Regions from separate parts of the Homo sapiens genome. Here all the other regions are linked to region 2. Evidence: fine-mapped expression QTL. A gene starts in region 2. Each other region holds a variant in brackets. All regions are shown on one strand. Distances are between the middles of the regions. Region 1 overlaps RAP2A (RAP2A, member of RAS oncogene family). Region 2 holds the start of RAP2A (RAP2A, member of RAS oncogene family). Region 3 overlaps MBNL2 (muscleblind like splicing regulator 2).

Evidence for each region. PIP is the estimated chance that this variant, and not a neighbour inherited with it, causes the effect.
Region 1: its variant is fine-mapped to the expression of RAP2A in whole blood (TOPMed, PIP above 0.99). The same link has a PIP of 0.9 or more in lung.
Region 3: its variant is fine-mapped to the expression of RAP2A in monocytes (TOPMed, PIP above 0.99). The same link has a PIP of 0.9 or more in blood mononuclear cells and whole blood.

What each region holds. Positions count from the first base shown.
Region 1 is chr13:97,462,101-97,473,025 of GRCh38, reverse strand. It overlaps RAP2A (RAP2A, member of RAS oncogene family), which reads right to left. Exons shown (of 2, transcript NM_021033.7): 2 at 3,898-8,821. The coding sequence ends at 8,584. Among named protein-coding and RNA genes, the nearest start is that of RAP2A, 33 kb to the right of the region's middle. The variant T/G (reference allele first, on the strand shown) is at 5,040.
Region 2 is chr13:97,429,859-97,440,783 of GRCh38, reverse strand. It overlaps RAP2A (RAP2A, member of RAS oncogene family), which reads right to left and starts at 6,615. Exons shown (of 2, transcript NM_021033.7): 1 at 6,000-6,615. The coding sequence starts at 6,313. RefSeq lists silencers at 2,394-2,587, 6,439-6,498, 6,519-6,878 and enhancers at 7,029-7,078, 7,099-7,228, 6,500-7,431, 7,379-7,518.
Region 3 is chr13:97,378,922-97,389,846 of GRCh38, reverse strand. The region is part of intron 8 of MBNL2 (muscleblind like splicing regulator 2); the gene reads right to left. Among named protein-coding and RNA genes, the nearest start is that of RAP2A, 50 kb to the left of the region's middle. The variant T/G (reference allele first, on the strand shown) is at 5,141.

The DNA.
Region 1 (10,925 bases), 32 kb before region 2:
GTGTTTCTCAAACTTATTCGACCATGGAAATCTTTTTCCTATTCAACATTAGTACTTGATGGAACACATTTGCAGAAACACTGGCCAAGAGCCAGCTCTATTAATGTTTAAATATTTCATCAATAATATGAAACAAAGACTGATGATGATGGTTGGTGTATCACTGTTCAATAAACTGTATGATTACAATGGTTATTTTCCTATTATCATATTCATAAGGTCAACTCAGCATACCCCTGAGGGGCTGGAGGTCAAGAACAACCCTAAAGTAGGCAAAGATTTCTTTAAAAGAACACAAAAACAGTTAACCATCAAATAAAAGATTGGTGCATTGACTTCATTAAAAGTGAGGACTTCTGTTTATCAGGAGATATCAACAAGAGTGTGAAAAGGCAAGCTTCAGACTGGGATAGTACACTGTACTTATAAACACGTGTCCAGAAAATGTAAAGAACTCCTACAAATATGTAAGTAAAAGATTAAATAAATCTTTTTTGAGTCACTTCATGAAACAGTAAACAAAACATTTACTCAATGGGCAAAAAACATAAATAGCCATTTCACAAAAGAGGGTAACCAATGACCAATAAGCATATAAATATATTGGCCTTAGAGAAACATGAAGTGAAATCCACAATGCCATACCACCACGCTCCCACCAGAATAATGAAATGAAAAATGACAAAGCCTGACAGTGCCAGGTATGTGTGTGGAAGGTGGAGTTGGTAGATGCCATGAGGCACCACCTGGACCTCCTTTCAGTCAAGTAACTGCTGCCCTGCTGCTGAGAATGCTGACAACCTTCACTCTCTGATCCTTCAGGGATTGCCTCTGCATCTTGTTCAAGGTCACAGTGACTGACAGGCAGAGGGTACAGAGGACTAAACCATCTGAGCCCAACTCAGGACAATTCTAAGGGCCCCATTCTAACTCCCTCTGTCTGGGGGTTGTTGGCCCTGCATCACACAACTTCTCCCTCTGGCCAATCTTACTTCCTCTACTCCCTTCCACAGGAGTTAATCCCAAGGACATTTGGTAATAAGCATCCTGCACACTAAGCTCTGTATCACAGCCCTCTTCCCAGGCAATCCATCCTGTGACATGGTGCAACTGGAGTACTCACACGTTGCTTGTTTATGTAAACTGGTACAACCACTTGATAAAACTATCAATGTTTACCAAAGTTGACAATCAAGTCTTGTAGTTCAGCAATTCCCCTCCTAGATAGTGACCTAGGAGTGAGTATTGTGTCTATCCACCAAAAGTCATGTACACAGATGTTCATAGCAGCTTTATTCATGATAGACTCAAACTGGGAATGACTCCAATGTCCATCAACTGTAGATTGCCTCCTCTCCTCTTCTCCCTCTCTCTTTTCTTTTCTTTTTTTTTTTTAGGATGGGGTCTCCCTCTGCCACCCAGGCTGGAGGGCAGTGGCCTGATCTCGGCTCACTACAACCTCTGCCTCCCAGGTTCAAGCAATTCTTCTGCCTCACCCTCTAGAGTAGCTGGGACTACAGGCATGTACCACCACGCTTGGCTAATTTTTGTACTTTAAGTAGAGACAGGGTTTCACCATGTTGGCCAGGCTGGTCTTGAACTTCTGACCTCAAATGATCCACTCACCTTGGCCTCCCACAGTGCTGGGATTACAGGCATGAGCTATTGCACCCAACCCTCTCCCTTTCTCTGCCATCCCTCTAGAGACTACAGGGGTCAGAGGAATTCTCACGCTCACAACCGATCCAGGTCCCCTCACCTGGACAGAGTTCCCACATCAGCATTTGGAGGCCAAATATCTAATAGCAGCATTTTCCAAATTGTGCTCCAGAGAGTGCTACTATGTATAATTGAAAGAAAGTGTCCTGGGGTCTAGTTATTTTTGAGACATGAGTGGAATTTGAGTTTTTTCCAAGATGTGAGATGTGTTATGTGGGGTTTCCCAAACTTGCTTGACTCTATCATCGTTTTCAGCAAACCCTCTCATGGTATAAGACCTCTTCAGAACACACTACAGAGCTGTGCTGTGAACAAACCAACATTTTAAACTAAAAAAACTCACTGAAACCTAAAAACACCTGGTATTTAACTATAGGCATGGACCCAGCATTTATTCTTCAGTGTAGTATCTGATACATAGAACCCTTTGCCCTGCTGTCCCCAACCTGCCTCTGTATCCCCACTGCCCCTCACTAATCCTATTTTTACTCTGAATTCTTCCTGAGAAGTAGACCCAGCCTGTAACAGTAGAGCCTTGAAGCCCTGCTGTATTGCCATCCCCGTCTACTGTGTCCCACAGACACCTCAAGATCCCGGGAGGGACTAGCTCAGGCTGATGCACCGATCTTGAAAAGTGAACAGAGCCAGCAGCAGTCTCTGGGGCTGTGTCTGGAATTTCGGCTCAGCCTGGGTTTACTGGGATGCTGACATGTGAAAGTAGGGAAGGTACAAATTATTTCTTGCTAGTAAACTAAACTGTATCTGCCTTAAGAGAAAAAGGAATGGCAAGAAGACAGGACTAGGATGTCTTTGACATCAGGGTTTATGTGTAGATGACCATCTCTGTATTGTGGCAGTGCCAGATGCAAGTGTAACCTCTCAATAAATAATAGCTGAATGAGCATGGAATGAGTGGATTCAATTTAAGTGAAAGGATTAACAGTGGGGAAAAGGTCATTTAGAGTTAGGAGCTTGTTAGAAGAATTAGAAATTAAGTGGCAGAGTTAGAAACTCAACTCTGCCACTTTATTAGCTGTGTGACTTTCAGTGATTCATTTTTAGTACTTAGAGCCAGTTTCTCAAAAGTAACATCGAGTTATTTATCCTTCTACCTATGTTCACGTACTTGCATATGTATATGTGCATAGGAAGATGCTGGGAATGATTTACATCCATTGTTAACATGGCTGTTTTGGGGAACTGAAAGTTGGGGTGACTTTTTTTTTTTTTTTTTTAAGAAGGAGTCTCCCTCTGTCACCCACGCTGGAGTGCAGTGGTGCGATCTCGGCTCATGGCAACCTCTGCCTCCCAGGTTCAGGTGATTCTCCTCCCTCAGCCTCCCGAGTAGCTGGGATTACAGGTGTGTGCCACCACGCCTGGCTAATTTTTTGTATTTTTAGTAGAGACAGGGTTTCACCGTGTTAGCCAGGATGGTCTCAATCTCCTGACCTCATGATCCTCTTGGGGTGACCTTTTCTTCCCTTCACTAATCCTGATGTTTTTAAAGGTATAAAAGCACATCACACTCAAAATAGTGTAAAACTGTAAATATGAATCATTGATACTGAAGTTTTTAAAATGGGAGGATCTTATACTAAAAAATCCCCATAAGCTAAACCAAGAATCTTTCCTTCAGTTTTATTCCCAACTCATACATACTAAATAGGTCTTCGTATTTACTCTTTCAAGCAGCTAGTCCTCTACCTTTTTCTCTGCTGAGAAATCTTGGAGGAATCCTTAGAGGCTAACATGAAGACTACTAAGAAAATATAGAAAGAAATAACACAGCGTCTTACCTAGAATAGCAGCAAATCTTTTAAAACTCAATACCTCGATGTTGGGGATGTTGAATATTATCTAAAAACTATTTATAGGCCAGGCATGGTGGCTCACGCCTGTGATCCCAGCACTTTGGGAGGCCAAGGTGGGAGGATCACAAGGTCAGGAGATCGAGACCATCCTGGCTAACATGGTGAAACCCCGTCTCTACTAAAAAATACAAAAAATTAGCCAGGCATGGTGATGGGCACCTGTGGTCCCAGCTACTTGGGAGGCTGAGGCAGGAGAGTGGTGTGAACCCGGGAGGGAGCTTGCAGTGAGCAAAGATCACACCACTGCACTCCAGCCTGGGTGACAGAGCGAGACTGTCTCAAAAACAAACAAAAAAACCACAAAAACTATTTATGAAAATATTTATTAAAAATACTAGATAATATTCAACGATGTAAAACCAGTTGGAATGATCCATTTAAGAGATGAAGAGCAACTATGTTTTATTAGTATTTATGTGGCAACATATTTTAAATTAAGAAACGAGGTCAACAGCTTCTTTCAGAAGTTTGTGGTAATATTCTCTGCTTCATAGATCCTAGAGGTCAGTTGGGTTCCAAATTGGGCAGCACCTTACTCCTTTAGCTACATATATTTTCATTCGTGGACCTCTAACAGACAAATAATATAACTTGAGAGAATTTCAGAGTACTACTTTTTAGCCTCAAAGACGTTCTTCCAACTATCCACTATTGATACATTTAAATAATTTATTAAAAAATTTACAAACACTTCAAATAAAATTATGAAGTTCTTCAGAAGATATTCCTAAAATATAGGCATGTTTTCCTTTAAATATCTGGGATTCTATCTACAGTGCCTCTGTTATATTCATTCAAATTATTCTTATAATCTAAAACAATGAAGCTTCTCAACTGGTGGAATGCTGCCAGAGGATTTCAACAGAGTTTGAAGGCAACATAACCAAAAGGCATAGTTTAAATTGGCTTAGGAAATGAATGGGCTCCTTATCAGAGCAGCTGAAGGCTGTATACAATTAACAGCATCTGTCAACTTTCATAGGGCCCCATATAGAACAAGCAGGCCCTACAGCCTGGCGGCAACCTTCAGCTTCTGGCACCTTCGGATCCACATGACCTGAAAACAGAAAGACGGCTTCAAGCCATCACTAGAAGGCCTCTGAATCATTTTAGTGATATTGCTAATTAATGTTAATTATTTGAACAATTCTGTTAACCTTAGCATCAGGCTTTAAATTAACCAGCTACCATTCAAAATATAAAATCATTTGTAGAGATAAGTTTATATTTATAATAACTGATTTTACAGTCTCTTACATGTTATTTTTATTTTTAAAGACTATGAAAATTATCTACCTACCTGCCTTTTTATATGATGAACTCTCAAATCAGCTAAAATATTTTTGTATGAAGAGTACTAAATTCATTATATGGCAATTTTTAATTGTTTTTGTATATAATACATTTCTCTCATGAGCATGTACAAAACAAAGCAAATCCAGAGTTTCA[T/G]TAAATAAATTTATTTGTTAAAATAATTTAACTCCAAATACAACTGTTGAATTTGCATTGAGTTATAACTACAATTCATGTTTTAATTGAAATGTCAAGGTTTAACAACTGACATTGTTACAAAACAATAAACTTGTTCAATTTTAAATGGTCAGTTGTATTAGAGCGCAACAATTAACTGTGAACTATATCTCTGGGAAACCTCAAATCAATAATGATAAGTCTGTTTCCAAAACCCACTGCAGTCATTCTTGAAACCCTGATCAAGATTTAATAGATGAACAATGACATGTTAAATAAAAAAAAAAAGACCTCCATAGTCCTTAATGTTTGATTGGCTAAGGGACAATTAAAGCTTACCCAGTGCTAACACAAGACTGCTGATAAGAACAAAAAAATTAAAAACACACACATAAACAAAAAACAGCAACAAACAAAACAAAGCACTTTCATATTCATACATACACTGACAACATTAACATTCATACTGGAAAACCCTTGAAAAGAAATACCAGACAGCCTTAGGCAACATTTCTTTATATAGAAAAGCAAATATCAGTAGTATTACCACAGAAAGGTGATGGCAACTGTAGCAATTTGAGTCAAAAGTTCAGTCCTAATTCTACAAACCAAAGGAGAAAATCATCAAAGCACCTTTCAATAGTTTAAGAAAATATTTTATGTAATACTTTTGATCAGATGCTGGCTTGTTTTGTATAAGTTGAACAAAATGAAAGGCATCAGTTACCATCACTATCACAGTTTAAAAGAACCCAAAAGTTGCAACATCAAAAGAAAAAAAAATTCAAAGATGCTGCCTTTGTATAAAAGTAAAAAAAAGAAAATCTTATCACAAGAGCTAAAGAAAAAGTGGGTCTTTGGATCAAACCATAATATTTTTAAGGCATGTTAGAAAAACTTTCACTTATCTAAGTTGCTAGTCTGATCAGGGCATAAAATAAATAGTGACACAAGGTCAACTTTCTTCTGTAGCCACTAAGGTTTCGTATGCCAACAAATGTAATCTTCCTGTTCTTAAGTGTTTTATTACTGTAATATCTCAACAAACACATTCATTTGCCAGCTGAGTTATATATTCATACCAGATGGATATGAATTTCCAGTTTCGGGATGTCCTTGATGCCTTGGTCACTAAATATGCAGGGCTGCGTGGAAACACTCATCAGGCAGCCAGATCAGTTCTTATTCATGTCTTGACAGTAAAAGCCCACCCTGTCATCTGACACAAATGTTTTTAACTATTAATACAACTCAAAATTTTAGGTCATCTTTTCCACTTTACATTCTGCCATATCTTTCATATTATTTAACCTATTTTCACATCTGCATAGCAAGCCATAATGTCAAACTGTGGAATCTTTATAGATATTTCTATTTTGCAATCTTACTTGTCAAAAATTGCTATGAATTATAGAATTCTAAAGAATCATTCTGAGAAGTTAGAGGAATCAAAACTCAACCAATTCACTAACAAATATTTTTATTTCCATAGAGAAATCATATATCTTGAATCTACAACTTCTCTACATGTTTGAATCAAACCAACTTTTACACAGTGAAATTCGTTTCAATAAAATTGGTTAAATTTTTTTGTCCTATAAACAAGGTGGTTCATAATTGAGGATTATAAAAAATTATACTGAAGAATGTAAATATTCAAAAGTCAAAGATTTATGACAGCTATGGCCTGGTTTCATTCACGTATCTCTTCAGTTTTTTCATTATGAAAAATACTATCAATCTTTTTTTTTTTTTTCACCCTCTAAGCTTAATGCCAGTTATTAAACACTTGGGGGGCTACCAATGATTTCATAAAAGTATAAAAGACACTTTAATAATTTAAAAGAAAAAAGTTTTTGATACACTATATTCTGCAGTATAGATTCTTAGTATAGGCAATTATCTCTGACTTGTGCCAAATTCTTAGGAACAATAAACACACATGCACACACAAACACACACTCTTCTCTCAGTTACACACGTAAGACCAGAGGTTACTTGCACAAGACTGTGAAACCAACAAAATGTGGGGTGGTGTATAGATCGCAGGCTCAGTGATATTGCAGTTCTGAAGGCCAAATTCTTCTCCCAAGGCCCAGCTCAAGATAATCTTTTCAGCATTTATGTATAACTAAGTTAGCTGAAGACCCCTCTATACTTGATTGTAAAACTTATGAATAGGTTTTTCCTGTGCCATTAGTCATGCAAATGATAAATACTTCACGACTATGAAAACCAAAAATGTCAGAGCTTGAGCACCTTTTCAAAACAAAATTTTCACTCCAGCTTTATTTGACGCTTCAGTAATCAGGGCAAAATTGTTCTAAGAAAACCTTTATATAATTCTCCAGGAAAATTAAAGGTAAAAGGCTTTTGTCCCTTACCTTCCACTCTATAATTTATGTTCACTTTTAAGCCCAAATTATTTCACATGGTTATTCAATTTTTAAAATGCCTGCAATAAAGCTCTGCTACAGCAAATACTTGATTTTGAAAGCAGGTTAGCCACGGGTCACACTACAACCATAGCCCTTAAAGGCGAGAAGGAATTTGCTGCTTTAATGAACTTAAAAATGCCAGATATTCGTACTGTCCTGTGAGGTTTCTGCAAACGGGAACATGTGGATGCAACATGGCTTCATCTTCCTTACATGATGGTACTAGTTTATCTATTAGAATGCTTCTTGTTAGTAAGGCTAGGTAATCTCTTCCCATCACAGTTGCTTCCCTCTTGTTCAGTAAAGTTATAAAGACCACCCCTAACAGAGGGCGGGTTTGGGGTTTTAATTCTGATCAAACCCTTGTGAAAGCCTCCATTTTCTGTGGCAAAGCAGGTGAATTAACAAATTCTAAAGCCAGACTATATTTTTACATAACCTGTTCTGAGTTTTGCTCTATCAAGGATTGAAGCATGAGTTAGTTCCATGTCACAAATTAGAATAACAGCTACAATTAAGCATCAATTTTGAAAAACAGAAATGTGTTAGCTGAGCAAAGAATCTCCCTGTAATGCTGTTGGCAGGTCAGCTGTTATTATCTTACTTGACGGAATACATTGGTTAGAAGCTCTATCCCATTTCCTGAAATTCAGTACTCTTGTAGGAAAATATTTCTCCTTTACTTATTTTTTTAAAGAAGACAAAATATTTTAATTGTAAGTGGTCAGAGGAATTCTTCTGGTTTCTCCCTTATGGTTATTTTTAATTTGTACAATAGTTGCTTCTGTCAACTCAGCGACAATGCCATCATAGCTTTCAAATGAGATCACCCTGTAGATCGATGGACTATGCCTTAAAGTTGCAGATGCATAAAGGAGACTGAGGACAAATGGTGAAAACTGTAGTTACTGAACCCAAATGTTACTCAGAGATATCAACTGACAATCACTGCTCAATTCTGAATAAGGGCTGCAGTTCTCTGTAGATTAACACCACGCATTCTGCAAGTTCTGCAGTGGAGTAGGCGAGTTTTCTATCACCTACGACATTGGGCAAATCCCATCCAGGACAGCCATATTTGGATGCTATTGTATGTTACATGCAGAACAGCATGGGTCATCTTTGTCAGGCTGAGCAGCATAGTTCATCTGCCTCACAATTTCTGCAAAGAGTTCGTCCACCATTGTTTTACTCTTAGCGGAAGTTTCCATAAAGGGGCAGCCCCACTCTTCAGCAAGGGCTCTGCCTTCGCTGGACGATACTTCTCTCTCACTTTCCAGGTCCACTTTGTTCCCAACCAAGATGACTGGCACTTTCTCATACCTATGAGAGAATAAACAAAACACACATACATTGTAACAGTTAGCACAAAGTTAAACAGGTCACGTGTATTTTCGTTTTTGGGGGCTATTCCAACATAAATGGTATCTTCAGTTGCATGAAAATGATTTGTACCACTTGGCTTGATACTTAGATCTGAGGGCATTTGAAGCTGCTCTCACAGTGGATGATAAAATGAGTTTTATGAAATGATGTTTTAATTAATCAATTATATATCCTTTAAAATCAATTTACCTTTCCAGATATACTTGGAAAATTATTCTCAGAAACTCAGACTAAATCCTCTTTTTTTTCCATTCTGAGAGAGGGTTGCACAAAATTTCACAGTTGATCACACAGTAAATAGCTACAATGAGTAAACAAACAACTTATAATTATCAGCATTTTACTATGTTCTATGTGTATAAAATTGATCATGTTCATACAAAAATCAGCTGGGTGTGGTGGCAGGTGCCTGTAGTTCCAGCTACTCGGGAGGCTGAGACAGGAGAATCGCTTGAACCTGGGAGGCAGAGGTTGCAGTGAGCTGAGATCGTGCCACCGCACTCCAGCTTGAAAAAATGATCATGTTCGTTCTAATAGTTCTCAAACAAGAAAAAAGGTAGTAGAAATCATCCAAATGGAAGCTATCAAATACAACCACACCCCATCCCTTCAGAAAACTTTTATGGATTAGTCAGTTCAAAGAGAAACAATTAGGATTCTTTTAAGACTGACAAGAATTCAGCCTCAATTAGCTTTAATTGGTGTTATTTCTCTTTTTCTTCCTAACTAAAATAGGTATCTCTGAGTAAACACGTTTGGAAAAAGCTAAACTAATAAAAATAGTAAGTGATAAGAAAGAACAAAGAAAGAAGCTCCTAAGTCATTTTGGTGCCTAAGATGATTGTCTCTACAATGGTTACTCCATGTAGCACATTTCACAACAGATGTCAACACTGGTGCTGGACTGCACATTTATTTACTATTCTTCTTTATGTTTGTTCTAAGAAAGATAGCTAATATATTTTCACAAGACATTTTAAAAGGTTTTTGTGATTTTAGTATAAATCTGTGTGTGTGTGTGTTTGTGTGTGTGTGTCTTCCCATAAGCAGAATGTATTTCTGATTTAAAGGAGCTAAACAGCAAGATCGCACAAAAGTGATAACAAATGTGACTGGAAACAGCTAAATCTGTCAGAAGAGAAAACCACCCCATGGTCAAGCCTTTGAGGCAGGATGCATAGACAATTTTTATCATTCAGGAAACTGGATAATAGGCAGGTGGTTATTGTTCGCTATGATACTTCCACAGATTTCTTCATCCTGTCAAGAGGGTTCTCTCCACTCATCCTAACTTGTAAAGCAAACCAAATTCCCAACATTCTCACTTTTTTTCTTTGACACTATATCAAACTAAGAATGGTCTCAACAAGAGGGCATACTCCAGGTAGTGTGCCATTTGGCAATGTGAAACATGAAAACAACTTAAAAATGAGTGGAAGGAACAACATCAAAGGCAAACCTAGAATTTGGATATTATCATTTTATAGGAAATGAATTTGGACAACTTCAATTTATATCAAAGGACTTTATATAAATTTACTGTACACTACTGTACCTTACGATTTCGGGCCTTAGATCATGCTGACAGCTCTGAACATAAGACACAAGGGTTTTTAACATCTTCTAGGACTCTTACATACAAACAATTTGTGCATCCCATGGCCTCTAGGAGGGCAAGTGGCAGTGAGAATAAAGCTGCATTACAAAACACCATGTATTTGCTACTTTGCATATAAACTCTCTTGATTGGCTATACAGAGAAGCTTGGCAGGGAGCAGACACTGCCAGCCATGTCAGGACAATGTCAGCTTCCAATTTGTGTTACTTGCAAAATGTAATTACATTTCGTTTTTCTTATGAAAGTATATACATCACAGTGTACTTTAAAATGCTTTGCTTGACAGTGGAGTAACTTAAAAACATTAATAAAATTAAGTAAAACATTGGTTGAATTTAAGTTAAAACAAATTTCAGTCTGTCTATGAATAATAAAAAGTGATAAGATCACTTTCTATTAGTTGAGATAAATGATAAATATTTT
Region 2 (10,925 bases):
AACTTTTGGAGGTGATGGATAGTTTTACAGCATTGATTGTGGTGATTTCACAAGTGTATGCTTATCTCTAAACTCACTGAGTTGTACACATTAAATATGTCTGGCTTTTTGTACATCAATCATACCTCAATAAAGTGGTTTTTAAAGAAAAAAAGATCATGAAAAACACTGAGCTCTTCGAGTCATTTTCAAAACAAATTTCAATTTTTTGACCATTTAAATCCCTCTCATGAAAGATGAAGTGAGCACTCATAACTATTTCCCTCCTCTCATCCTGACTTACTAGTTATATTGTTTGTTTCATATTGTCAGTCTTTTTAACTTTAATATTCTGTTTGGCAGCCATAATTCTCACAATTCTTTTATCTTAGTTTTGTATTTAAGTGGATAGAGGTTTCACCATCAGTCCTTATCTTCATACCCAAATTCTTTGTTTGGATTTATGTCTGACTTTCAGGATTTAGTCATCAATTCTTCATGTTATATATATTTATTATTAAAAATTTTTCCTACTAATTCACCAGTACCAAAACAAAACAAAAAAAAAGTGACCCACAGCTATTAGGCTCTGTACCTGGGAGGTCCAGCTTTGAATTAAGTTTTGGTACTGGGGAAGCAGGTATTTTTAGAGGGAAAAACGGTAGCAGAGCTCCAGAAGTTTCACTTACTTGGGACAGACATCTTTTGATGTATACTCTCGTTTCGGCTCTCCAGCACCAAACTGTCATGGGCCAAAGATCTATGTGTAACAATTGGTAATATGCTTCTGTTTTAGAGTAGGCTTTAATAGCTACTTATGGTAAGGGGGAAAGTGTAAACAATCAGCCAGCTCACTTGAAAGTGACCACTTAAGTGATATAGAAAATTAATAATAATCTTAAAAAAAAACAACTTACTCACCTTGGGTAGTGCTAGTCAACTATCTTTTTCCCAATCTTAAAACACCCCACGCCTTCTCGCCTACTGCAATATAGGAAGTCTCCACTGTGTATCTTACAACTCTCGAGTTCTATCCTTGGCTATATTCATTCATTCCTCATTTCTATTGTTAGCCATATCCATTCATTTCTGTCTCTATACTCTACCCAGTAGGTTTCATCTACTCTCCCAATCTGAACTACGCAGATGATCCTGAGTCTTCATATTCATACATAACCTGACCTTTCAGGCTTTATTCAAATGTTCTAATTACTTATTAGGCTGGCTATCTGGATAATTACCATCTCCAAAACTGAAAATAATCTCCCCCAGCTATTCCTCCATAATCCTATTTGTTCATTTCAAAATGTCAAGGTTACTTCTGACCTTTTCCTCTTCCTCTACCACTGAGTTTGATTACTTCATTCTTTACAACATTCCTTGCATCCTTTCTCTCCTGTTACTACAGACACCATGCTAATTCAGGATTTTCACACTTCACGTAAAAACTGGATTATCACAACATTTATGACTATTCTTCCTGTTATGAAACAGAGTAGTCTATTACCACTAAGACATCTACCATATCACTACATATTGCTATACCTATGACAATTGTGATTATGGTCCTTGACTACATGATCAACTCCTAAGTCTTTAACCTTCAGTAATTTAGCTTTAAAAATTTTCACCTTACCTCCCCTCACACTTCTATATACATTCCCCATTTGGCCAGTCTGCTCTATTTAACATCCAAAAAACATATTCTATGCATTTCCTGTGCCATTTCCTCCATCTGGAATACATCATGTTTCTGATTCTTTGAGGTTCGTATTAAACACTGCCCCAACTGGAAGTGTTCTCACAGAAAGTTCGAGCTGAAGGAAGATCATCTCCATCTGCAAAATGAACTTTAAAAGATCATCTCCTCCATCTATGAAATCAAAATGTTTAGGGAAACTGAGGCCAAACAACAATACAAATACTTTTCTTTCTGAACATTCATTTTTTCAACATTTTTTCTTGTTTCCTATGTGCTAGTAGGAGCTGTGTCACCTACGTGGGCTTGGAGTTTTGTGAGAAAGGCTGGCTACCCATAAATTATCACACAAATAATTAAATTTGGATGAGTGCTTCAAAGAAAAGGGAAAGGACAGGGTATGTGTGATTGAGCAAAGAGGTGAGGCATAAAGTTTAGTAAGGGAAGACAGGAAAGGGGTTACTTTGGTTTGAGAGGACATCTTCCCTCAGTGGGGAAAAATCTTTTAACTCATCTATGCCTAGTGTTCCATTATTGGAACACTAAGCTTGTGGGAGTTATTTATATCCTACTGTTCAAGGTCATTGCTAAGGTCTGATATTTCACAAAAAACATTTGCAACCTCCGGTATAAATGGGTTAAGCAGGGGTGAGGGTGAAAGACGGAGTAGGAATTAACTCTGCAAAAAGGTAGATTTCCACAGGCCAAAGGAGAGCCCAGAGAAAGGTACTTTCAAGGACTTAAGGTCTGGGTGCTAGAATAAAAGGATGGGTGCAAGAGGTGAGGCTGCACAGGCAGGGAGGGATAAGAGCAAGCTGGACTGTGAAAGGTCATGTTGAAGATTTCTGGACTTTTTCCTAACAGCAAAGAGGCCTTGTATATCATGTTCCAAGAACTTCATGTCAGGACCATGGCTGATCCTGGCATGGGTAACAATGAAAAAAGCAATTACAAAATCAGAAAAAAATTCTAGTTTTATTTCAACTGAAAAACATTTCCTATATCCCTGTTACTCTTCTTTGTGTGTGTCATCTCACCCAAAATCAAGTTAAGAAAAGAAAGCATATGAATTTACAAATATAGCCATTTTCAGTTGGTCCACTTGGCTTTGACAAGAGGTCATGTATGTATACGGAGGTATGTACACTTACAGACACTTAAGGGAGTATGGGTCAGTTTCACATTTCTTAAAAGTGAAACATTTCAAGTAATAGCAATCCTTGAAAATGACTGCTATTATTTGAAATGAAAATGAAAAATGAAAAGCTCCATTCGTTGTTTGGCTATGCATTAGTGCTATGCATTATTGCTATACTGTACTTGAAGTTAAATGTTCATTCTCATGCCCTTTTCCATCAGATCCTTCATAAGGGGAAATAATTTCAAGAGAATACCAACACAATTCTTCCAAGGATTATTTTAACCTCATTGCTTTTTAGTCTCATCTTGAATATACTAAGTAATGAATTCCAAAATGCAATTACAAATTTATTTCTTCTAAAATTACATTTATATCAAGGGTAACATTTAAGGAAGATAAATGACAAAGTTATTAAAGTAAGAATGACAGCTAGAATTTTTTGAGCAATTTCTGTGTACTGGTATTGTTTTGGGAATGTTAAAATACATTATCTCATTTAATTCTAACAAGGACTCTGGAAGGTGCATGCTAATCTCTATTTCACAGATAAGGAAACTGAAGCTTAGAGAAATAAGCAAGCATTTCCCCAAATCATATACACCTTAGACCTCTGTTGTCCAATATGGCAGCCTGTGGCCACATACGGCTACTGAGCACTTGAAATGTGACTTGTTTGAATTGAGATGTGGTAGGTCAAACACATACCAAACTTTGAAGACACAGTATAAAGAAGTAAAGTACCTTATTAATAATTTTTGAATACTGACATGTCAAAATGATTCTATTTTAAATATGGTGGGTTAAATAAAATACATTAAAATTAATTCCATATATTTATGTTATTTTTAAAAAATCAGCTACTAGGAATGTTAAAATTACATATGTGGCTCACGTTATATCTCTATTGAAAAGTGCTGACCTAGACCTAAAGCTGAATACTGAATTTGACAGTAGATATCAAATACTGAAAGACTGGTAAAGAAGAGGCCACCTGCATTCACATGTCCTCTCCATCAATGATGGGAAGCCAGACGCTGGGGTTAGGATGAGGTGTAAAATACCTTACTACTACCATATTACAAAGACACACAAGTGAGGGTCCAAGAGGTTCTTATGTATACAACGGTTGAATTCTGGTGAAGAGAATTTATGAACTCTACTTCAGCTGATCAATGATCTTTTTATATCAAGAACTGAGACTAGTGAGTAAAATGATACTGGGCATGCAGAATTTTACTCTATGTTTTTCCTCTGGGTCATAGTGAAAATAAACAAATTGCTCCAATATGCTGAGTTTAGACTAACCTATTATTATAACTGAGAAAAGTAATCTGCACTAAATTACAAGAAACTACAAAATTATGTGGACCATATTATCCAATAATATTTTGCCATATTTGTTCCCTAGGCTTGTGTCAAGAAGTTAGCCATGGGTATGTGGCTTTATCAGTGTATATGTGCATCTTCATATCTTTAAGCATATATATCTAAATGTGAAGGGTGAGGCTGTTGGGGCATTTACTTAGATTATTTTTTGATGTATGCATTTGGCCTAACATTGACATGTGGCAATGTATCAGACTACCCTGCAGTTGGTTTGGTTTGTTTCTTTTTAATTGAGTGGTTGGGGGAGGGGGTAATAAGAATTTAAGTAACTTAAATGTAGCCCCTTAAATGCCATCCTCATACTAAGTTTAACACCAGAATTGTTCATCTCTTAACTATAAACATTTAACTTTAGGAAAATGATACTGGAGAAGTACAAAGCTATCAAATTTACAAATCTTAGCAGCAGAGACCACGAAAATATCTGCTTTATTCTAGTTTGGAATTTAACACAAGGATGAATAACATGCACGATTTTAGTTCAGCGATTAAAGTGCATACTCAGTTAAGGGGGGGTGGAGCAATAGAGAGAGAGCCTTCTCTTTGATCTCATAGGTTGCATTAAAAACTCACTACTCGTAATGAATTTTTGATCATCCCCTGGGTACACATAACTTGGTCCTTGCTCTTTCAAAATGAGTGGACTCAAACTGACTTACAATGTGACTGTGTCTACGGTGCACTTACAACCATCTTTCAGTAAAGGTCTTCAGATTTAGGCTCTAGGTAGAATAAGGCAGGAAAAAAAGGACACCAAAATTATCAGCAGGCATTAACTAACAAGAACTAGATGAAACAGTAATGTGTAATTAAATGATAATTAGAAAAATTTGCCAAAACTTTGAACTAAGATATTATCACATTTCTAATGCTTAAAATTACACGGAAAAATATATTCAGTGAATTTAAGAGAAAACAAACATTTTAAATCATTTATCAGCCATATTTCCAAAATGTATACTTTAGAAAAGAATTTATATATATATATAAAGGCTTATTAACATTAACTTTAAATTAGCTAATACTTGTGTCACACTTTTGAAGAAGCTTCTGTTTTGTTTCCAGGAACTGGTGGTGGTGGTGTGGTGGTGTTTTTTTTTTTTTTTTTTTTTTGGAAGGGGTTAAGGCGGCTATATTAAAAACAAAAAAACAAAAACAAACAGTTAAGCTGCATTCTTTTCCTGTGAATGGCTTATTTGTACTCCTCTGTTAATATTCTCGAAACCCCATTTAGCTTATGATGTCTTCAAATAATTTAATAATCTGTCTTTAAAGTTTTGCACTAAATTAGAGACTTAATTTTTGTAAAACGCCTTGGAACCATAAACCTTTAACGAGATGAGAAAGGTCTCCTTCCTCTGGACTTGACTTTACTGTATAGGTGTGTGAGCGATTTTTACTGTCAAACATTGCCAAGGCAGATTGTTGTTGTTCAGTCTGCAAATGTCTCGACTATACCTGCACAGTTCCTCTCTTCCCAAGACAAATCTATCCACCCCTTTCCCCCCTGCAAGTTTTAAACTTTGTTTCCTTGGGGGCTCTGTAACAAGCAATGCTAACAACGTCCAAGAGACAAAGAGCTGTTCTGTGGGCTAACACGATGCCAAATTTTAGTTGTGAAACAAAGCACTCAAATTTGAGATTGAGGAGGAGGAGCAGAATGACAATAGTAAAGCCTCCAGCTTGGAGCCACCCCCCAGAAAGCCCCTTCCCCGGAGCCCCGCGCGGGGAGTTCCAGCCCCGGGACGGTGACTCCGGGGTGCAGCCGCCAAGCCCCCGTGTGCCCTCGCTCACCGCTTCACGCGGATGATCTGGTCCCGCATGGGCTTGATGTCCTGGAAGCTCTGCTGGTTGACGAGGCTGTAGACGAGGATGAAGCCCTGGCCGTTCTTGATGTACAGGTCCCGCATGGACGCGAACTGCTCGGTGCCCGCCGTGTCCAGGATCTCCAGCACCGACGGCGACGAATCCACCTCGATCTCCTTGCGGTAGAAGTCCTCGATGGTGGGGTCGTATTTCTCGATGAAGGTGCCGGTCACGAACTGCACGGTCAGGGCGGATTTGCCTACCCCGCCCGAGCCCAGCACCACCACTTTGTACTCGCGCATCGTCCCTCCGCGGCCGCCGCCGCCGCCGCCGCCCGCGACATAGACCTACGCCGGCCGCGCTGCGCCCCCAGCCCCGGCCCCGGCGGCCCGCCCCGCCGCCTCCCGCTGCCGCCCCCACCTCACAGCCGCGGCGGCCCCCTGGGCGCCGGCGGCGGCGGCGGCAACTGAGGGAGCAGCGGCCCTGGGCATGGGCCGGGCCGAGCCGGGCGGCGATGCGGCCCCGTAGGCACCGGGTGGGACTGAGGGCGAGCAGAGAGAGAGACCGGGAGCCGCTGGTGCCGCCCGAGCCGCGGGCCCGCAGTGCCGCCCGCCCCGCCCCTCGCGCCTCCACGCCCAGATCCCCGCCCGCCGCCGCCGCCGCCGCCGCCGCTACCCCCAGCGCTCGAGCGCGCGCCCGAGCCCCAGCCGCAGCGCGGCCAGGGGCGGGGTCCGGCGGCCGGGGCGGAGCCCGCGGCGCAGCCCCGCCCCCGCCCCCTAGGCGACGGGCCGCGAGCGCTCCCGAGAGGCTTTGCGGGGCTCGGAAGCTTCTGCCCGCGCGGAGATAAACAAGCACCGCGACCGCCGAGCAGCGCCGAACCCAGCGCGCCCAGTCAGACCCCAGGGCCTGTGTACCGAGCATGCGCAGTTCCCGCCCAAGCCAGGAGCAGCGTCAACCTGAGACTCCCGAGACATTAAGAATTCGGAAGGGATGAGATGGTAGAGGGGCTAGAGCTACCTCCAAGCTTTATCCTGAGGCGGGGAGTGAAGGAGAGATGCCCAAGGCCCAAGAGGGGCCGCGAGGGCCTTTGTCCGATGCCACCCAGTCTGTCAGCACTCCTAGAGCTTTGGTTTTATCTTGTATTAGCATGTGAAGCTTTAAGGGGGGGGCACCTACAGGCTTCTGACTGAAGTTGTGTAAACGCAACAAAATGAAGCTTTGGAGCGTTAGGACATTGATGGGAGGGTGACGCCCCCCTCTAGCAGCGCGCCAGAGGGGCGAGTCAGAGGCGGCCACACACCACGGAAGTCGGGTCCAAGCCCGCTGACGTCGCCGGGGTCCCGCCCACCAACCCTCTGGACCCGCCCACATTTCTTCTAGACCCGCCCCTTTCGGTGCCGAACTGAAGTCGAGCTCTTCCCACGCCCTGTCAGCCACGGGTGAGTTGAAAACCTGGAGAGCGGAATCCCGAACGGCAGCCGGAAGGCCCTGGACTCCTCATAGCAACAGCCAGCTAGGGGCATCTAGTGGGAAGCTGGGATTCATTCTAGCCAACCACATCACGTCTCTGTACCACAAGGTACCATTCACGACCAATAAGAGAGCGCCCCCATACCACGTGCCTTTACTCCTTCAACCAATCGAGAAAAACGCTAGTCGTAGGATCCGCAAGCCCACCTCCCAGTGCCTTGCCAGGCGGGGCTCTTCGCGCACGCTCTGCCAACCAATCGTAGGTGAGCTGGCGAGTGACGGAAGCTTCGGCCAAGCCAACCAGAGCTCGCGAGCCCCTTGCCACCGAGGCCGGCGGGATGGAGACAGGGACCGGCTGCTGGGGTTTGGGAGGGGCAGAGATTGAGGAGCCAGTTGCTGTGCCCTGTTCTGGCAAAAGAACAAGATGCGTTGCAAGCCAGAATGATGAATTCCACTTTTCACGTCGCCTCCGTGGCATTCTGCCTAAATGATGGGCATGGAAATGGTGCTGAGGGATGTGGGCTGAATCGAGAACACAGGGACTTTTGTCTTCAGGGTGAGAAATGTTCCGGTCCTTAAGGAAACATCGTGCAGCAGTTGCATGGGTCTTCCAGGCGTTCCTCCCAAAACATTATTTTTTTTCTTTCACTATTGAGTTTTAAAACTTAGCGTTCTGTCGCTAGCATTGCATCTTAGTTACACATCCTCTCCCACCCATAACGTCAAATTTAGGAGACGATACATCCCCAAGCTTTCCTGCATTATTTTTTGCAGTAACTGGTTATTCAGTTTACTTTCTTTAAACTATGTCCTTCTCAAACTAGTCTCACCTGTTCGTTACTGTCGCACATTTCCTGCGAATAACACGTTTCTGTAGTTCTGTTGTTAGAGCCTGGCATACCTCTCCCCGTTCCTCTTTCCCACAAGGTCATCATGCAGAGGGGATTTTGGTCTGAGTTAAAAGCCAGGTATTCTTTCACCATCTTTTCTGTCGATAGTCAAACTACTACAAAGACTACTCAAATTTAGTAGTTTCTTATTTCCCTATAGCTTCGTTATATTAGAATGGATAACTTATATTTGCATTACCTTGCTGTAATGAACACACACCAAGTTTTCATTTAAAATTATCAAGGACAAATGTCCTCTGAATTTAAAAATGTGTATGTAGTAAAATATAACTCAGCATTTCTTGATTACATATCATTAAAATATGAATGGTACTATCTGAGCCACCAGAATCAGCAGTGAAGGTATTATATTAATAAAAAGGACTAAGAATCAGGACTGTTTTAAGGGAACTGGAACCGAAGAGGATCTACTATTTCATCCTAGGCTAGTTAACATGAAATAGTGAATTAAAATTGAAAGAGCTTACATGGATGCTTCATATCTGAGCTACTTTGGCAGGGATGTTTCAAGAGGATGTAGGTAAGTATGGTGTTCACCTAGCTTTCCAGAAGTCTCATATTTTGTGTAAAATTGGTATGCTTATTCATGGTTACTTTGGGTTAGTAGAAGCTATACTTCTTTTCCAAGGAAAGACAGACTGTCTTAAGATTCTAACTGTGCATCTTGGTGATAAGAAGTTCTTAGGGTTGTTAAATAGAGCCAGGAAGCGTGAAGCTTTCTCTCTAGATCATGACAACTCATCTAGTACCTTGCATTACAAAGGAGCTCTAAGTCCATTTACTTTGCAAGGAATGAAGTTCCAGTGATTAATGTTTTTGAGAAATTTGTATTGGGATTGTGGGGTCCAGAAGGTTGCCTTAAGTAACTGTTTTCATGACTCCTAGGTCCCTAGATGTTGAGAAGCTCTGGATTGAAGCTGTCACAAAAATAGTGAGTGGGCTCCGTAGTCACTCCATTTAGCATAATACAGAGTAGGACAGCTTTGTGACATTTCTCAGGCTATTTCCCCTGACCTCTCATCAATGCTGACGTTTTTGATAAGAAGGGGTATAGAGACTGCAGCCCTTGGGGTGGTTACAGTTCATTTATTTACAGGCCTTATATTGACAGGCCTCAGATTTCATGCTCAGTACCATAAAGGTTGATTTTTAACCACCAAGAGGCAAAAGAAACATGACAGGTCGGAGCATATTTTCTCACCTATTCTGGCTTAAATGATGGTACTTACCTGATTTGTGGTTGTAGGTGAAATGTTGGGTGAAAGATTAGCTGCTATAAAAAGGATGTCAGGACGTGTAGAGAATTTAGAGGACTTGGGTGGGAGATGGATGTCTATTTTCTAACCCCTTAGTCATGTTCATTCCGATGCCAGCATAAACTCTATTTTGAGATGATTATAGAAATAACTTATATCTTCATTTGTTTGTGGGAAATAAAAAATAAAAATGATATAAAAGAAATTTGAATTATTCCCAAGAGCTGTAAATCTGTAAGATAGTGAAAACTTAACGCAGTAACTGACACTGCAGGATCCCTTTAGTTTCCAAAGTGCATTGCCAGGAGAATAAAAAGAAAGAAAATCTTCATTTCTCCTCTCTCCACTAAATCTGAAAGGGAGTTATCTCACCTATAGCCAGATACCTTCAATTATCGCACTTGTGTTACCGTGGAAACCCAAGTCCATCCTTTCTTTCTGTAAAAGGTGTTGGAAAAGGTGGTATGAAGTGGGAAAGGTACTGTATTCTGGGACTTCCTGACACCAGCAAGAAGCAAATATGCAGATAATTTAATAGAAACAAATTAGTAGAGGATGTTTGTAATGCGAGGGGTACTTTTCGACTGTAAAACCCTGATTCCTAATGCTTCTTATTAAAGCCTGCATGCCTCTGATTAAACATAAAGGGGAAGGGCATGTCAAGTACATTTAGCACCTGTGAAACGCTGCTGGCAAGTATAAGGAGAGCAGACGATGGTTTCTTGACCTGTGAGGCTCCTAATACAGTTGAGAATCTGCAGTATATATGTGGAGTGGAAAGGAAGGGGCAAAATAAACTTTGTTCTTCCTTTAAAAAATGTGATATGTCTCAGTGCTTTTGAAAAGAAAAGGAATTAGAATGCAGAAATTAAGAGTATGGAAACAACTCAATAAAAGAAACGTATGGGTGGAGAGAGTAGATGTTTCAAAAGGCCATTTTAATCAGAAAAAAAATCTGAAAGAAAAGACGTAATGATTAAAATGTAGGCAGAAAAAAGAAAAAGCCTGAAGAATCTTAAGAGCTAGAGGATTCTGCGGAAAACAGAGCTTCAGTGTGGTTCATTTAACAAAGCAGAAGAGCAGGCACAGTGTTGCTTGCGTACCCAGCAGTTTCCCTTTATTTTTGCCAAAGAAGCTGGGATGAATCAGGATTGGACTTTAATAGCATTGCTTTCCCTCTGCCCACGGTTAGTCCAAAAGTAGGCACGTGACTCAGTTCTTGTCATTGGAATGGGGAGAAGGCTGCTAGGGCTGGAGGGATTTCTAGGATATTGACA
Region 3 (10,925 bases), 51 kb after region 2:
TTTCCAAATAAGAACGCACCCTAGTCCATCAAATCATGTCTGATTTTTCTTTTTCTTTTACTTTTAAAAAAAAAGTTTCTAAAATAACTCTGGAAAAAAAATTGCAGTTTCTTTCTTTCTTTCTTTCTTTCTTTTTTTTTTGAGACAGGGTCTCCCTCTGTTGCCCAGTTAGGAATGCAGTGGTGTAATCACAGCTCACTGAAGCCTTGAATTCCTGGCCTCAAGCAATCCTCCCACTTTAGCCTCCTGAGTAGCTGGGACTACAACCACGCACCACCATGCCTGCCTAATTTCCATTTTTATTTTTGTAGAGATGGGGTCTTCCTGTGTTGCCCTGGCTTGTCTCAAACTCCTAGGCTCAAGAAATCCTTCCACCTCAGACTCCCAAAGTGCTGGATTATAGGCGTGAGCCACTGTACCCAGCCAGTTTCTTAAATTGATATATAATAATATGTATTTTAGAATGCATTTAGATTCTTGCTTATTTGCTGAAATTGAAATGCTATAAAGAATGAAATTCCTAACCATCTGGAAAAGAAGTATTCTATGAAAAGCATAGCAATGGCAAATTAGAATGGGCAAACGTGGGTTATGGAAGTTACCTATGGCAAGGCTTTGAACTTGTATTTGACGAACAGACATAAATGACCACTGAAATTTAATTGGACTGTAAATCAGTCTTGGAGCTAACTAAAGCATAAACTAGTCTCACCCAGACTGCACTTCCCCTCTGCCCCAGTCTACCGATGAGCTATTATATGAATAAAGACATCAATAAAAATGAGCCCTGGGACTATTGAACTCTCAGCTGTGACTGCTGCCTGGCATCTAGGCCAGAAAACTCTGGCCATCCCCTGGTCTTTGTCTTTGGCTGTCATTTGGTATAAAAAACGAATCACACTCTTGGCATCTGTGAACTTCAAGAGGTTCAACAGATTTAATCTTAGAAGGTGGGAAAGCTTTGGGTGTTTTTCCTTATAGGTTCCATTTTTGGGTGGCAGCATTTTTCTTGGAAATATCTTCTGATTATTAAATTTTTTTTTCCTGAGAAATACAGCTTGCTGATACAGTCTGTATTATCTGTACTCTGGGGTGAAATATGCCCTGGAGATATAGACAGAACAGGGATACAGATCAAGAACAGTTATCAACTGAGGGCCTGTCATATCACTAGCACCCATCTGATTGCACTTCTGTTGTTAGGAGGCACAGGACCTTACAGGCCCGAGAGTCCCAGGGGAGTGTGGGACAGATCTAGCCGGAAGACCACCCACAGGACAGGAGGAAAGTGGAAAGCCAAGTGTGTGTGCTTGTGGGGACTGGCGGGAGGGAGAGGAGAAGCTGCTTTGAGAGAAAGAGGAACCTCTTGTCTAGTTTTTAACATGGCTTTTCTTTATTCAGATTATATGTTGATTTAGCACTAAACAAACATAATTTAATGTTTGATGAATAGATACATTTTGTGTGCTTTCCTGTTACCTCTTTTCAGAGATTTTCTCCCATACCAATGATATATATATATATATATATATGTATGTATGTATATGTATAAACTTTTTCCATCTTTATTGTAGTTTTGTGGCCAGGAGGATCAAAACCTTCATGGGGTGCCTGAATATTTCATTACAGATAAGAAACATACCTTCTTAAAATACCAGGCTTATATGTGGCCCTGGCACATGGGCTACTCATCTGATGTGGATCAACCTTAATTTTGAACTTCTCCATTTCTTAAAATGCTAATTAAAATACAGTTCACCAAAGTGAGCTCAACAGACCAACTGTCCATCACTTCTTTCCTGTCCTGCATTTGGTCAAAGCTGGTGCCCAAAGTTCCCTACTCAACCTCCAAGGCACAGCACCCCATGCTGTCTTGAAAGGGAAGTGGAAAACTCATAGGGTCTGCCAGGGTATGCGTAAGTCAGAGAAACAGCCACCACATTGGGGGTCTCCTGCCAGTCTCCTCTCTGAAGCACCCTTGTTTTTGTTTGAATTTTAAGATATATCCCCTTGATTTTCAGGAGGCTCTGAGAATTTACAAGCTAGAGTCTTACAAGCTAGGTCAGTATTGTGATCATATTTTGCAGACATGGAAAAGATGACGTGCATAATTTTAACTGGCTTGCACAATGTACAAAGTGCTTGCACAAACCAGCATGAGTTTGGAGATGTCACTCTGCTCATTGGTGAAGGCATCCCCTCCAGGGCATGGGGACGGTCTGAGATAGGGCGACGGGACACAGAGGTTCCAAAGAGCATGGCTGTGCCTCATGGAGCCTGCTTCAGAGGGTGCTTAGAAGAACCCCTGTGAGCTTGGGAATCAGGGGAAGGCGAGGCCCTGGGGTGGAACCTACAGCAAATGCACTTGGAGCTTTAGAGGGGAGACAGTGAGACTGTTTGGAGGGGCTAGATGGGTGGAAATTGCTGGGGGACTGTGAGGCTGCTGGGCCTCTCATTCAGGGCATCCTTGCCTGGGTGGTCAACCACATCCTGCCCCAGGGCTCCTCCAGATGGATGTTGCAAACGTGTCTGCTTATAGCATCAGAACACCCTACCGCACCACAGTGCCGCTGCCTCAGCTGCTGAGAAATCTTGGCAAACTATGACGGTAGGAAAGAAATCAAAGATATTCAACAAGCTATATTTCTATTTGTCTCCCTGGGAGACTATTGCCTCAAGTAAGTAGTGTTTTATATAACAAAGCACCATGACAGGAGAAGGAAGTTAAATTATTAAATAAGATTCTAGCTAATCTAGTATGGTAAATCAAAATTCTGAACTGCAAGCATTATTTTCAATTCCTTTTTCCACTAAAAGGAGAACAGACAAAAATAGGAATAGCTGATGCCCACAGTATCTGTGATTCTGTTTTTAAGGCAAAGATACACTTGATCTCAAATCATGAGTACTTTTCTAAATCTTCAGTGGCCCCTCTGGGTGGAACAAGAGTATCTCTGATGCAAAAATATCAGCTGGCTACAATGGAGTCTGCTTATCAATAAGGAAAGGAAATCACATTAAGTGAATTAAACTGTCTCCCCTAGGTGGTTGGATTTAAGAATCTGATGATTCTGCTCAATATACGTTCTCAAGTTACCCCAATGTGAATCCAGTACCTGATTAGTTTCATATTTACTTGTTGAAGACAAAGCATGAATGGCTTCAAAAGCATCAAATGGGTTATTTTTCTATCAAATATGTTATGAGCAGCCATTTAATAATTATAGTGTCCTCAGTGAATTGCCTGCCATTGACTCACAGTGCAGTGGTAGCCAACCTTACTAAAAAGTGGACCAGATTAGGTACTGTCTAATACTAAGCCTCCTGGGGCCAGGCAGGAAAGATATGTAAGTGAATAGGCCAGGTCGAGGGTGTGGCAACAGCCACTCAGCCCCAGCCAAGTGCTACCTGCGGAAACATGGGCTCCATATTACTTGACCTTTTCATTTGCCAAAAGAAGCTGGAAATTCAGCAATGAATTCACATCACAGAAGGATCATATATATCTTTGGGCTAAATTCAGCTAAGAGCTGCTGGTTTGTGTCCTCATCAGCTTTACTTTCTTGAAGGCAATATCCACTATATTCACTAAGTCTGGATGGCTTCCTGAGCTGGCATCAGCCAACGCTACAGGCAACATCATGGCAGGCAGCAGTGGTAAGAGTGAGACCAGGAGAGCAGGTTTACAGGAGAGTTAGTCCTACAACTTTCAGACATTTGGCTTTCGCCCAAAGAAAGAGAGTATGTGACCAACAAGGCACCCTCTACCTAAAAAGAAAATACCAACCCTCCCTTGACTGAGTCATCAGTTATGAAACATGCATGTTTTCTTGTCTCTGCCATGTGATGATGGATTTAGGCTGAGCCATCCATACCTGTCACTCATGATGTGCGCTCAAAAAAGAGCTGAACAGGGTGAGAAACACACTTGGTTCAAAGCAAAATAGTCTCTGCAGAGACTGAAACACTGAACTTGAACTAATCAGCACCATGAACTTAACAGCTGAACTAACCAGTCCTCATGCAGAATGGTGCAAGAGAAGACAAATCAACGTAGAATTTCCTTAGTATTTCAGAGGTACCAAGTATTAATACATTCTGGGTTTTCTACCTTGAGGTTGATCTCCAGGAATTGTACGTATGTATAACTTTGGAAACTGTGGGCTTCTAGGTGACTTCTAGAAGTGTTTATACTTCTTATGTAAAAGTGCTCATTTCAAAGATTCAAGGATGTCAGATGAGTTATTTTTTAAAATGATAGCTCAATATTAAATTTGGTAAGAACTGTTCCTGCTCTGCTTAATTGATAGGAAAACATTCCAGTGAAAATGCCAAGAATTTCCATATATGCAAGTCATCAAGCAATTAGAAAAGAGAAATAATGGATGTTTTGGTTCAGTCTTCCTGTGAATAGCCATTAGGACTGTCTTTGTAATGTTGAGTTTGGATGGCATAGATAAAAAATACCTTATAACATATTTGTGCAGCCTTGCTAAACTACTAAGGAATCTCAATGCATCTTGATGTCACTAACATGGAATCTCAAGTGGGTACTTCCAAGCAGGGCTGGTGCACTAACTGGGTCCACAGCCAAACCAAGCTCTTTAAGGACAGGGGGACTGTCTCATTCATCTTTATAGCCCCAGTATCTAGGATAGGGCTGGGAATTTATTAATTGTTGCTTGCATGGATGGCTAAATAAATTGAAGTCATTGAAGACACAGTGCCACAATGCTGGCATCAACAGAAGACCACCAGACCATTCATGGGAGAAACAGGAATGGGGCAGAAAAAGAACCCTTTGCACAAGATGTGTCATCTGTGCACCTTGTTAGGGTAGTTAAGGACTCAGAAATATCTAAGAGAAATAAACATTCCCTCCCCATTCTCCCATTCTCCCTACTCCCCATTATAGATAAAGGGGAAAATATTCCAGGCTGGGGGCAGAATCACTCACAGAGAAGGGAAATACAGCAGATAAAAATTCACCTAAAGTAACCTTCTAGACTTGGTAGGTTTCTTAGAAATCTTTTGCCATGGTTACAAGGCCCTGTTTCCCCAGAAGGCAGTTAAAGATATTAATAATATTTCACTGCCTCTTTAAACAAAATTTATTATTAATTTAAAAATAGGCAATTAA[T/G]TGGCATTTCCTAAAAATAGGGCTAAGCTAAGGAGGCTCGCACGTTGCTCACCCTCCCAGTCTGTGTTTCTTCATCCAGTGTTTTCTTCTGATTCTGTCTCACAAGTTCCTTCTTCCCACTCTCTGTTAGCATTGCTTCCTCCTTTAGTCTGTGCACCATTTAATATTCTCTCCACCTTTTCCCCACTGCCCCACACCTCTTCTCCACAGCAGCCATGACTGTCTGAAATGCCCTGATCTTGCCTGAGAGGCTACACTTGTGAGATCTTTCAGTTGAAGCAAACTGCACAGAGGCAAAGGGACATGTGTACATTTTGACTCCAGTATAATTCAGTACTTAATCACAGTATGGATTACTGAAGTCAAAAGAAGTGTCTTAGTCTCTTAGTGAATATATGGTATCAGATAAAAAAGTAATTAAAGCAATTATAATTATACATGTTAACAAATGTACACTTTCAAGAACTTTCTTTGGCCTATTTCATGACTATAAAATTTTAAATATAGGCCGGGTGCAGTGGCTCATGCTTGTAATCCCAGCACTTTGGGAGGCCTAGGTGGACAGATCACTTGAGGTCAGGAGTTCGAGACCAGCCTGGCCAACGTGGTTGAAACCCTGTCTCTACTAAAAATACAAAAATTAGTTGGGTGTGGTGGTGCACGCCTGTAATCCCAGCTACTTGGGAGGTTGAGGCAGGAGAATCACTTGAACCTGGGAGGTGGAGGTTGCAGTGAGCCAAGATTGCGCCACCACACTCCAGCCTGGGCAACAGGACGAGACTCCCGCTCAAAAAAAAAAAAAATTAATTATATAAAAAGCTCAGAGATCATCAGTAGTATATGAAAAGACACTTAAAAATAGTCTGATTCATTATTCTGGGGGAATATTGTTCGGAGGTTGGGCAGTGTCATGCCATATTTGACTTATTTTCAAAATGTAGTTTTATTTGCACAGAAAAGGCATACACTGAGGTCCTGGGGAAAAATTATCAAATATGACAATCAGCTTTACTCTGGAGAAGAGCACACTGAGGTTGTAATGTCCGTAATATTTCATAGCACCTTCAAGAGGAGTTTTGCCAGAATTATTGTTTTGTCCTCTGCTGTTTAGTAGAAAGTTTATATTCAAAGCTCTAATTCCCCTAGTTTCAATGATACTTTTTGTGGATGACTCATTTCTGTCCAATATTTTCCACTTGATTATATTTGAACAAAATATTTTTAGATATACTAAAGAAAAATTGTCATTTAAAACTATTAATAATTGACGTTTTACATGAAAAGCAATAATACTGTCCTCGCTGAAGATTACTGACCAGGGTTCACATTGACAACTTAGAGTATCTGGATAAAATTCATAAACGGGAATGCTCAACTTTGAATAAGATTCTGCTCTTTGCATGAGTCCATGTCACATGTAAAAACATCTAGGTTCTTATGAGTATTGCAGTTAGGCTTTGATTATAATCCCCTCCCTGACTCCAGACAGTCTCCTTCAATCCTAGCTCCCCTGGGGGAATTCTGAGGATCATTTCTGTGGCTCTCATGCTGAGATGGGAATCTTGTCCTCAGACCATCTAACAACCCATATGTCATCCAAGGGTGAACACTTTTCTTCTCCTATATGATATAAATGAGGATGAAGGTAAAGAGGCATGAGAAGGAGACTTTTCTTTCCTGGCCCTTTCCGCTGGCGTTCTAGAAGTGTTTTAAGCAAAGACATATTCAAGAGCACTGTGTATTTATTCAGAAGGAGGGGAGTTATGCGACTGTGTTTCCTCAGCAGGTGCCAGAAAAGGTAAAATCAAAACAAAACCCTAGATTGGAAGGACTGCATGATAGCCAGGAAAAAAAAAGTGAAACCCTGTCTCTACAAAAAAATTAGCCAGGCATGGCCCAAGTGAGGCTAAGGCAGGAGAATCACTTGAACCCGGGAGGCGGAGGTTGGAGGTTGTGGTGAGCCAAGATGGCGCCACTGCACTCCAGCCTCGGTGACAGAGTGAGACACCCTTTTCAAAAAAAAAAAAAAAAAAATAGTTGGCAGATGAAACCATGGCATCAAGAGAAATGGGGAAGAAGGTGGTGTGAATGGGTCTGGTGGCTACCCAGAAGCAGGCCCGAGATTTTATCTTCCTATTCCTTACCCAACATTTGTGATTCCACACCATACTTCCCATTCCGACTCCACAGGCTTTCCCCGGATGACATTCTAGTCATGGAATTCACCAGGGATTATGGCGCCTCCACAGCTCCAGCAGGTGGAGGAGGTGACGGAATTTTCTATTTTCTGTTGCATGGACATCTGGGGGTTTGGTGATATGTTTCTTGAATCCCAAAGATATAGCAACATCATAGACATGAGTGGCATTTGGCCTGGGCCATGCTTTAGCACTGTGTTACTTATAAAAATGCCACAAACTAAATAAAATGGTTGTAGGCCAGCCCAGAGATCTAACCACCAAGGCCATGGCTGTCTCTGTAGGAGAACTGAATTTCAAACCAAATGACAAAGGTAATTTTGAATATGTTTAAAATTAGGGACTGTATGTGTACTAAAGCAGGATAAATTCCTCTACTAAATCAAGAAAAAATATATAATATGTGGGACACACTAAGAAAATATTTGAAAGTGTTTAAAATATTTACAGTAAGTTGTGTAGGAAGTGAGGCTCTCTGAGATTAAATAGGCTGCTTCACTGAAGATGACTCCTGGACATAAAGTAGAATCTGAGAAAACATTTTTATACCTTTAAAAATCAGCACTGTATTCACTGCTGTATTCCCAAGGTAGGTCTTAATATTATGTAACATAATATGTAATATATGTAATATGCAGACAATATGTTACATAATATTAATTAATATAATATGTAACATAATATTAAGACCTACCTTGTTGTATACATTGAAAATATTTTCCTAATATATCTATTTTTGTTCATGGTTATTGTTGATATAAGTATATCTGGAATATTTTAAAGAACAGGAACTGGCAACTCAGGAGTGAAAAATAAAAATTTAATAAACGTGAAAGTTAAAAAAATTAAAGCAACAAGGGAATTCCAAAAAAATTCATTTATGCAGCAACAGAAAAGAAATTTCAAAAGCATTCATATATGATATGGGTTTTTTTCAAAATGAGATTTTGCTCCCAGTAATAAATTGAAGATTCAGGTCAAGAAAAATCACAGAAACAAGATCTTGTTGGATTTAACATAAAATGTCCAATCCTGCTCAATGCCCTGCTTTTGTATCCATTACCATTATGTTGGACTTAGAATCCTGGGCACATTTTGGCCACAGTACCCATTTTAACAGTGGAGTAGAATGTGTAATTTAGCCTGCTAAGAATTGGCTTTCAAGGCATCAAAGGGAGAAAAGCAACCAAATGCTAAAATGCAGTAAAAGGAACAGTAAGATTAATGTAAGGTACTGGACTTGGACATGTGTCTTTGTGTATCGTCATCATCTTACACATTTCTCAAACTGGTGGGATGCTGCTGCCATATAACAAATTTTCCAGCAAAAAAATTAGTGTTTTTTTCTTTTTAGTTCTTTGCCTGTGTGTGGTGTGTGTGTGTGTGTGTGTGTCAGAGAGAGGGAGAGAGAAAGAGAGGGACAGAGAGGGAGAGATAGAGAGAGAGGTTAACAAAAACCACTCAATTGTGTGTAAAATCTAGGTGCAAAGGAAAAATCAAAAAGAGTACTGGAGGGGAATTTCAGGAGGCTTGTCTGTGCCACCAGTCAGATTTGTGCCCTTTCGAGCCTTAGTTCCTCACTTGGCTTGTATCACGCTGGCACCTCTGCAGTGCGGTAAGTAGTTAAGCCAGGTCACCATCTGCCCTCCCCAGTAAGCCCTCAGGAAGTGCCAAAATAGCCAATCGTCGGCAAAATGGAAACCAAAGGAGGAAAATGTTTAGAGGAGGAGGAGAGCTCCCACATTATCTTGTATTTCTTTATTACTAACCATCCCCCATTAAAGCTCGGTGGTGAGGCCCATTCTTTCAGCATCACCATTTACTTTCTGAGATGACCCTTCTCATATGATAAGGACTCTGACTGTAATTATTTGTACATTTGTGTATCGCCTGTCCCCCTCACCATGTAAGACCCATGAGAGCAGGAACTACTGTTTTCATTGCTGTATTCCCACAATTCTGAACTGTACATGGCTCAAGGTGGGTGTGGTTTTTTTTTGTTTGTTTGTTTGGTTTTGCTAGAGTCTTGCTCTGTTGCCCAGGCTGGAGTGCAAAGGCGCAATCTTGGCTCACTGCAACCTCTGCCTCCCAGGTCCAAGCGATTGTCCTGTCTCAGCCTCCCGAGTAGCTGGGATTACAGATGCCCACCACCACACCTGGCTAATTTTTGTATTTTTAGTAGAGATGGGGTTTCACCATGTTGGCCAGGCTGGTCTCAAATTCCTGATCTCATGTGATCCGCCCACCTCAGCCTCCCAAAGTGTTGGAATTATAGGCATGAGCCACTGCGCCCAGCTCAAGGTGGGTTCTTAGCGTACATTTGTTGAGAGAAGATATAAAGATATGTTGCCACAGACATGGTTTCATTTAGAAAGAATACGTCTTTGCACTCAGTTCCTTACCTTATGAAAACAGAATTCTTAAAGGGAAATGTGGCAGCCATAAAGAATTTTTAATGCAAGAAGAACCATTTTATACTATAAGATTTTATTAAATGAAAACCTAGGTCCAATCAGACATTGTCCTTGTCACTCCTTAATCCTTTCTTTGGAGAAATGACCACTCAGATCTTTTGTCTATTTTTTAAAATTGTGGCAAAATAGACATAGCATAAAACTCACAATTTTCACCATTTTGAAGCGTACAGTTCAGTGGCATTAACTCCATTCACCTGGTTGTGCCACCATCACCACCCTCCATCTCCAGAATGTCTCCTCATTCCAAATGAAACCTGCCCCCGTTAGAGAATAACTCCACATCCCCCTTTCCTGCCAATCCTGAATCCCTTTCTCCTTCCATTCCTTCTTTCCCACCCTCCCACCCTTTCTGTTCTCCTTCCCATTTGGGGCTTCGCAGTGAGACCCCTGGCTCTTTCTGCTTGTACATCTGAATCATCATTAAGATCCCCGTTTGCTTCCTCATTTAGCTCTGTGGTTTCACTTACAACTGAATTAAACTTCTAGTTGTTCCCTTTACAGTCGCTCCTGCAGGCTGCCTAAAATATTCATCCTCAACTAGTGTTGTTACGTTTACCTGAGATCAATTTGAAAGTGAGGTTCTGTGGGGATGGTGAAGAAAAATAGTATCTTTATTTTTAAATTATTATTGTTAAAAATTAAAAAGTGAGTCTCGATTGAGAGGACTCTTTTTGATAGACTCTTTTCAGGCAGAAGTTGTGTGCCAGTTTTCCCACCCTGGGAAGAGTGAATGGTGCCTTTTCTCAGTGCTTTCTAGCTCTGGTTCACTGGACTGAAATTTGGATTCTCTTGCTATTCTCACCAAGCAACAATATTTTCACACCATTTCTGATATTGAGCTTGGACTTTAAAAAGTTTTCGCTTCTACTAAACTTTCTTCTCAACTAGTCAAAACTTTTCAAAGCAATAAACTCAGTAGTTCGGAGTTTTTAAGGGGAGTCATATGAAGAGGTTCATCCCAAGCCTACACTGACCATAGATTCCAATCTAATTCAAACAAGGTGGGTTCACAAAAGAACAGGATTTGCAGGCATGCAAGCCTGAGGTCTACACAGATCCAGTTGCTTCCTACCTGCTTGAATCTTAAGCAAATTATTCTCTAAGATGTGC